Homo sapiens: one gene and its partner. The protein of the gene in region 2 interacts with the protein of the main gene of each other region in a pairwise test. Each region holds a gene or a part of one and is shown on either strand. Other genes may lie near its edges.

The links.
Region 1: the proteins of KIF19 (region 2) and HTR2B interact in a two-hybrid assay, tested with the Homo sapiens proteins (one large-scale study listed by BioGRID and IntAct).

What each region holds. Positions count from the first base shown.
Region 1 is NC_000002.12:231,118,506-231,122,324, forward strand, and holds part of HTR2B (5-hydroxytryptamine receptor 2B), read right to left. Parts: intron 1-3,819. UniProt on the Homo sapiens protein: G-protein coupled receptor for 5-hydroxytryptamine (serotonin). Also functions as a receptor for various ergot alkaloid derivatives and psychoactive substances.
Region 2 is NC_000017.11:74,339,512-74,343,330, reverse strand, and holds part of KIF19 (kinesin-like protein KIF19), read right to left. Parts: exon of another isoform or gene 3,187-3,819; intron 3,004-3,186; exon of another isoform or gene 2,789-3,003; intron 2,149-2,788; exon of another isoform or gene 1,989-2,148; intron 1,456-1,988; coding exon 1,345-1,455; intron 702-1,344; coding exon 614-701; intron 308-613; coding exon 171-307; intron 1-170. UniProt on the Homo sapiens protein: Plus end-directed microtubule-dependent motor protein that regulates the length of motile cilia by mediating depolymerization of microtubules at ciliary tips.

The DNA of each region.
Region 1 (3,819 bases), on a different chromosome or scaffold from region 2:
TGCTGTTTATTTTATATACGGTACAGGAAAATAACCTGTATGCATTGCATGCCTGGGTTTTTTGTTGGTTTGGGTATTTTTTTGTTTGTTTTTGCTTTCTTTTGAATTAGTACAAAAACCTGAGGAGTTTTACTAGAAACCCCGTATCTTGATGAGGCAGACTTATTTTATCTGAAACCTGCTTAACCTTTGGGCAGCTTTTTAGTTTGGGAAGTCAGGTTACACTATTTGTCCGGAAAATAATTAGCATCAGTCCATAAATCTGGGACATAAAATGTTTCCCTTTGGAGGATGTAAAAGACTATTTTTAAAGGCATTCCAAGTGGGCTGTTCCTATAGTTTACAGAGGTACTCAGTTCATGAACTTATTGCAGCAGGACAAATCATAAATACTTCTTATGTCCAAAAAGAACATAATTTTCAAATATACATTTATCTCAGAAATTCTAATGCTTCTGTCTTTATCTTCCAGAAAAGAAAGACATAGTTCAGTTCAAATTATTGTTTAAAAGTTTCTGTTTTGTTTTTTACTTTTTTCACTACATTTGAGCATATGAGTTATCCTGGGGTTCAGTGTCTAATATGATAGTGTTTTAAATGTTTTAAGCATTTTAATGCTTACAGAATTTTTTCCTGGTTTTTAAAATTTCCACTTTACAAAAAGAAGTGCCTTTAATTCATTGCTTTTCTCCTCCATTTCAGAATTGGGTAGGCTAACATTTTACTGCATAAATGAATAACTGCCATTTTTCTCTTACTGCTATACATTTGTTTCATCTCTGATTAGACTTGCATCTCAACTAAATCATATTTAATTTGCATGCAGTACTCTACCAGTTACTATTAGTGCTTATAAGATGCTGGGCCCTGCTTGACAAGGTGATTGAGCTCTGAAATAATAAGTGATTGAACTCTGAAATAATAAGTGACTTGCCTGATCCAACACGGGAGAACCAGGATTCAGACCCTGGGATGTCTTGCTTCAAACAGCCATCTTTCAGCCATTTTATATACTCTTTCAGCTATACCACGGATACTGTTTGAACTTATAGATCATGAGGCATCAATTGAAACTTAAGTTATAGCCAGGTTTGGTGGCTCATGTCTGTAATCCCAACACTTTGGGAGGCCGAGGCAGGTGGATCACCTGAGGTCAGGAGTTCAAGACCAGCCTGGCCAAAGTGGCAAAACCCCATCTCTACTAAAAATACAAAACTTAGCCAGGTGTGGTGGCCTGCGCCTGTAGTCCCAGCTACTCGGGAGGCTGAGGCAGGAGAATCGTTTGAACCTGTGGGTGGAGGTTGCAGTGAACTGAGATCATGCCACTGCCCTGCAGTCTGGGCAACAGAACGAGACTCCGTCTCAAAAAAAAAAAAAAAAAAAAAACTTATAAATAAACCAATAACACCCAATGGATGGCCAGATGCCATATCTTCCCGTGTTACTTTTTTTTTTTTTTTTCCCTGAGACAGAGCCTCACCCCGTCACCCAGGCTGGAGTGCAGTGGCACCATCTCGGCTCACTGCAACTCTGTCTTCCGGGTTCAAGCTATTCTCCTGCCTCAGTCTCCCGAGTAGCTGGGACTACAGGCGCGTACCACCATGCCCAGCTAATTTTTGTATTTTTAGTAGGGACAGGGTTTCGCCATCTTGGCCAGGCTGGTCTCGAACTCCTGACCTCAGGTGATCCATCCGTTTCAGCCTCCTAAAGTGCTGGGGTTACAGGCATGAGCCACCGTGCCCAGCCTCCCCTGTTACTTTTTAAATCACTTATAAAATGAAACAAAGATTCAGAGAAGCTCTTAAATGGTGAACATCCTGTCTTTTTTATATCAGCATAAGGTGTTGTTTTCTTGCTCAAGTATTTCTAACGTAGGTATTTTCAAGCCTTGTGTTATAAGCTGTTGATTTGTGATCATGGATTTTAGGAATTATGGACAAGACAATAAAAAACTACAACTGTAAAGATCAAGTCCAGTGCTCCCAGATAGGAAGAAGTGGCAGAAAAATTGACCTAGCACAACTCATTTGAAAGACAATGTTGTGCCTGAGTTGTCATAATCTTGGGAAAATATGAATTCAAACCGTATATTGTTAAATATTATACAGATCAGTGGTTGAATAAAATATCTCTCAGTATAAGGACAGAAGGTCCACTTTTATATTTTACTGCTCTTATTTTTAAAATTTCATTTTATTAGACTACGAGCTAGTATAGTTTTTGTGTTACTTTCATTGAATTCCCCTGCGATAGCTAAAATTATTGCTCATAGTGATAGTTAATCTTTTATCATAGAACCAAGAACGCTTGTTTGTACAAACGTTAGAAGTCCTAAAGATTAACACTACAATAAGAGTGTAAAGTCTAATTCTGCCTTTTAAAGTTATCAGAAGTTCTTATAAATGCATTAGTTTAGAAAAATCTTTGTGTTTATTAACTTGCAAAAGGTTATAAAAATATCTTGGTATTTGAAGTCAGGTTTCCATTTGTAATACATGCAGTTCCCAATTTATGAATTCATCCTTTGAAGTTTGTTAGAGGGCAACATGTGTTTTTTTCCTACATTTTTTCATAGAAATTGAATTATGCTTTAAATAATGCAATAATGTATTAGATAGTAGTTCACAGATTTGTTCATTTTTTAAAAATCTACAAACCCCACTATACAACTTATTTCTGATAGTAAAAGTGTTTGGGGCTATAAAATATTTTATTTTGTAATTAGAAATTAACAAACATGAGCCAGGCATGGTGGAATGTGCCTGTAATCCTAGCTACTTAAGAGGCTGAAGGCAGAGGATCACTTGAACCCAGGAGTTTGAGGCCAGCCCAGGCAACATTGCCAGACTCCATCTCTATTAAAATAAATAAATAAAAATAAATTTAAAGTTAATAAACATTTGGAAGAATGAAATAATATTAAAATGTCTATCAATTATTTAAGACATAAATATGAAGACATTTCACATATTTTATGTTAACATATGTTGGGTTTTCTGCTAACTTGTATTGCTAAGGATATGTTGGGTACCAGCATTTTAAATATACACTTAAAGTTTTCAGCTGCTGGATACCTATTTTTCTATAGAATACATGGAATCTATTAAACAGGTAAATCTTTGTTACCTGTTTTTGTATTTTGTTTGTTAGCTCACTTTAATTCTATGGTACTTTGCCTTTTAAGATTCCTTAACTATTTAGCTGATAATTTAAGTATCTACCATGGTACTTTGCATATAATAGATGTTTGATATTTATGGACTCAAAGATTTTAAAGCTAAAATTCACTTCTGCATAATTCTTTCAATATCATGTATTGAATGACGTATTAAATTTTATGGTAGTCTGAAATAAGCATTTTGACATTTTCTGTGTGCCTAGCAAAGCACAGTTTGAAGAGTATGATTTTACATCTTAAGCTACTATTATGCACATGGAGATGAGAGCTAGAATCATATGCCTGTACAGTATTTATCAAATATGCATATATATTTCTACATAATACTTTCTTTTAAGCTTTATTCAGAATTAGGGTTATGTTCTCTATTATAGTAAGATTTCTTAATTATTTTTCATGGTTTCATGCAGCATTAGATTATTTAAAAGATTACAAATTTATAAAACAGGGAGATAGAAAGACTGTTAATTATTAGAAAGTCTAATTAAAGCAGTAGAACTTTACTCATTACTGCTTGTCCTGCCACATAATTTTCTTGATTTATTTTAAAGCCCAGGTAAATGTTGATTTAAAATGGAAGGTGTAAACCTGTTACTATCTGATAATAGTTTTAGATATCTTTCTGTTATTACTTATAAAAT
Region 2 (3,819 bases):
TGACATTGGCCTAGTTGCCTAACCTCTCTGATGAGCCTGCGATGTTTGTAAAGTGGAGCTCACAGTAGGCATGCAGGAGGGCAGCAGTGATGAGCGCCCCGGGAAGCTGCACAGTGACCAGCCCCAGGGAGGGAGGCCAGCCCCATCTGAGCCTAGGCTGGGGGACTCACCTCCAGGTAGGACATGGAGACCTCATACTCCATGTCATTGCTGGTCTCCTCGATGGCACGGAAGAGGTCGTTGAGGGTCTGAACATAGATGCCAGGCTCCTGGTCTGTGCCCAGCATGGTGTAGGTTTTCCCACAGCCTGGGGCAGAACAAGGTGGAGGGTGACCGGGGTGGGGCTGGGAGGGAGGCCTTGCTGGGCAGGCACTCCTGGAAACCGGGGTTTGTCCTCAAGGCTGGGCCCTCTCAGAGGGCCAGGGAGGTGGTGGGGAGTGGGGAGGATGATGCCCCGGCTCGGGTTGGGGCCTCTGGGGCTGGAGGGCCCTGGGTGAGATGTGGAGCGACCACATCCTGGATTCCTGCTCCAGCTGGGGTCAGACTAGTTGGAGGGTGACGGGGATTACAGGGGCATTGCGGTCCTCGCCCACAGTCTGGGCATTCCCCTTACCTGTGGGGCCATAGGCAAAGACAGTGGCATTGTAGCCTGAGATGACGCCCTCGATGAGGCTCTTGGTGGTGGCCTGATACACCATCTCCTGCGAGGAAGGAAGCCTGTCAGGGGCCGGGACACAGGCGGGGCACAGCACAGGCACCCACTGGCTCTTCCTGACCTCTGATAGGAGAGGTTTCTGTCCCTGGAGCCCCAGCCCCAAGATAAGTGGGGGTGGGGGGTGGGGGAGGGGATGTCTCTGCTTACACTCACAGTGGGGGACGTCAGGCTGAAAGAGAGCCCAGGACACCTGAGACGCCTTCCTGCGCAGCTGGCTCCTGGCCCCCCGCCCTGAGGATGCATCACATCTGTTCCTGGGAGCATCCCACAGATGGGCGAGATGGGGGTCCTCGAGGAGGGTGTCAGCTTCGCTGAACCCACCCTCTGCCCCTGTCCTCCCCACACCAGATGGCCTTCAAGCTCCTTTTCCAGCTCAGTAGGAGCCAAGCGAGTTGTACCGTGTAGGGTGGTGTCTGAGTGCCAACCCCAGTGCATCCTTGCAGGAGGCCGGGTGTGTGTGCCTTGTGTGCATGAGAACCTTCCTGAATGGGGAAGGCTCAAGGAACAGAGGGTGAGCAGGTGGAGTGGAGGCTGAGGTTCAAAGGCAGGGGCCCTGGAGGGCCCCTCCTGAGTGGGGCTAAGGGTGGGGGAGGGGCTCCTGCGTGTCTCCAGCCCAGGCCCTCCCTCACCTGGGTGGCGGTGAAGTCAAAGGCCACGTCGAACAGGTAGGACTTCTCCCGGGAGCGATGCGCCCGCAGGATGTCGTCGGGATCCTCCATTGGGTCCATGAGAACCACCATCTGCAAGGTCCCCAGAGGGAGGCCCACGGTCACCTGGGAACCCCGGGCCCTGATGAGGTCAACCCTCAGGAAGGTTAACAAAGTTAACCCCTTTGTCGATCAGAGTTAACAAAGCCCTTCTGGGCTCTGAATCTAGCCCTCGTCGCCTCAGGATGTGGGCAAGAGATGGGAGGGGCCAGAGGCCGGAGTCCAGGGCCCAGGTCCCACTGGAGGTAGGTCTCGGAGCCAGAGCCCATTCCTGTCCTCTTCAGCTTTCCCATGTCGGGTCAGGCTCGCCATCATCTGCCCTTGGATGCCCAAAGGGGACACCTTCCTGACAACGAGCAATTGCCTCTGCAAGGCCAGTACAGCCCCAGGGGAGCAGAGCACACACAGGTGATGCCCAGGCTACCACGAGCCCAGACCCTGGGGGCCTGCCCCTCACTTCAACACCCCCCATGCTGCCTCTGCCAGAGAGGTGCAACAGAAGAACGGGCAGCATCTGTCAGGGCTCATTTTGTGTCAGGACCTGTTGCAAGCACCCACACATACAGTCTCTTTTATTTATTTATTTATTTTTGAGACGGAGTCTTGCTCGTTGCCCAGGCTGGAGTGCAGTGGTGTGATCTCGGCTCACTGCAACCTCCACCTCCTGGGTTCAGTGATTCTCCTGCCACAGCCTCCAGCGTACCTGGGACTACAGGCGTGTGCCACCTGTATTTTTAGTAGAGATGGGGTTTCTCCATGTTGGCCAGGCTGGTCTCAAACTCCTGACCTCAAGTGACCCGCCAGCCTCGGCCTCCCAAAATGCTGGGATTATAGGCATGAGCCACCACACCCGGCCTCACACAGTCTCTTTTAACCCCAGCCATGACCCCAGGCTAAGGCCAGCTATGACTCCCACCTTACAGATGAGGAAATCAGGGTCCAAAGGAGTCACACCCCCCAGGTCGTCACACATCAGCAAGGGGAGACCCAGGGTGCCAACCAGGCTCTGAGTTCAAAGTCCACTGACTCCTATCCACCTCGCTACAGCCCTGCCTGCTCCGCCTCACCCCTCCAGGGCAGAGCCTGGGACAGAGCAAAGAGCCACAGGCAGCTGGGTGAGGGATGAGGTCAGCACGCTGGGCTTGGGGATCTCCACTCGCAGCTGAGAGGGCTGTGAGGGAACTGCTCCAGTGGCCCTTTGCAGCTTTGAGCCTGAGCCGGGAGTGGAAAGGGTGGAAAGGGAGGCAGAGGGGCTTGGGCTGGCAGCCAGGACAGGCCATGGGTGGGCCAATCCCAGCTGGGGCTCCCCTCCCTGCAGGGTAGGAGTGGCAGCAGTGTGTGTGTGTGTGTGTACGCGCGCGCATACCTGCTGGCACGTGTGTTGAGACACAGAAGGGTCCTGGCCGGGTTCTTCCCTTCCTCCAAAGGTAACCGAGGGGCCCATTTTCTAGAACTATCTCAGGGCCTGCTCCACTCTGCCCCTGCCTCTGCCCCTGTGCACTTGGTGTGTACTCAGCCTTGTCCCGAGCTCTATGCAGAGATGCAGAGGAAGGAGGCTGCGTCCTTGCTGGGGGCCCTAGTCTAGGGTATGGGAGGGGATAGAGACAATGCCAGATTCATGGAAATGACGGGAGACATTCAAAGATGCGTGGGAGGGCTTGAGTTTGGAGGATTTAGGATGAGAGGAGCAGGGGCAGCAAAGGAGAATCAGGGTAGGCACTGAGGGCCCTGTGACCTCTTATTGGTGGTCGGGCCTGGTATAACCTGCTTGAGCCTCCATCTCCTCCTCTGTCAGATGGGACAGCAGCATGATCCACCTGCAGCGCTGGGAAGACCCTGGAACAACGTGTAATGTGCTTGGGCACAGCGCTGGGCATGTGCCAAGAGCTCAACAGTCTTTGTTCAACGGGCTGTTAAGAGGGCAGGGGTGGAGACTGAGAGTGGCCACCTGTTCCCCGCACCCATGACTCTGCCATCAAGTCGAGACCCACAACTCCACCCTCACCGTGGAGAAGGTCACTGGGATTCCACAGGCCCTGCACCTGCCTGAGGTCCCTTTGGACCATAGTCCCTGTCCTCATGCACCACCCCCAACCACTGCACCGCGGAGGTGCCCCCTGAGAGGCAGCTGGCGCCTCTAAATGCTGCTCTGCGCCTGGGGACGCCTGGGCTCCCTGGGGTCCTGGCTTGTGATAGCCAGGGGAAAATGAGCCACCACCGTGCTCTTCATGAGAAGGGAGCATGCTCCCTGGGGCCGTGGGTGCTGAACGGAGTGCATGACGGCAGCCTCAGCCAGCATGGGCATCTCATGCGTCCCCTCTTTCAGTGGGAGGGAAGGGGGCGAGGGAGGTAGGGAATGGGTGTCTCATTGGTCCCCTCTTTCAGTGGGAGGGAAGG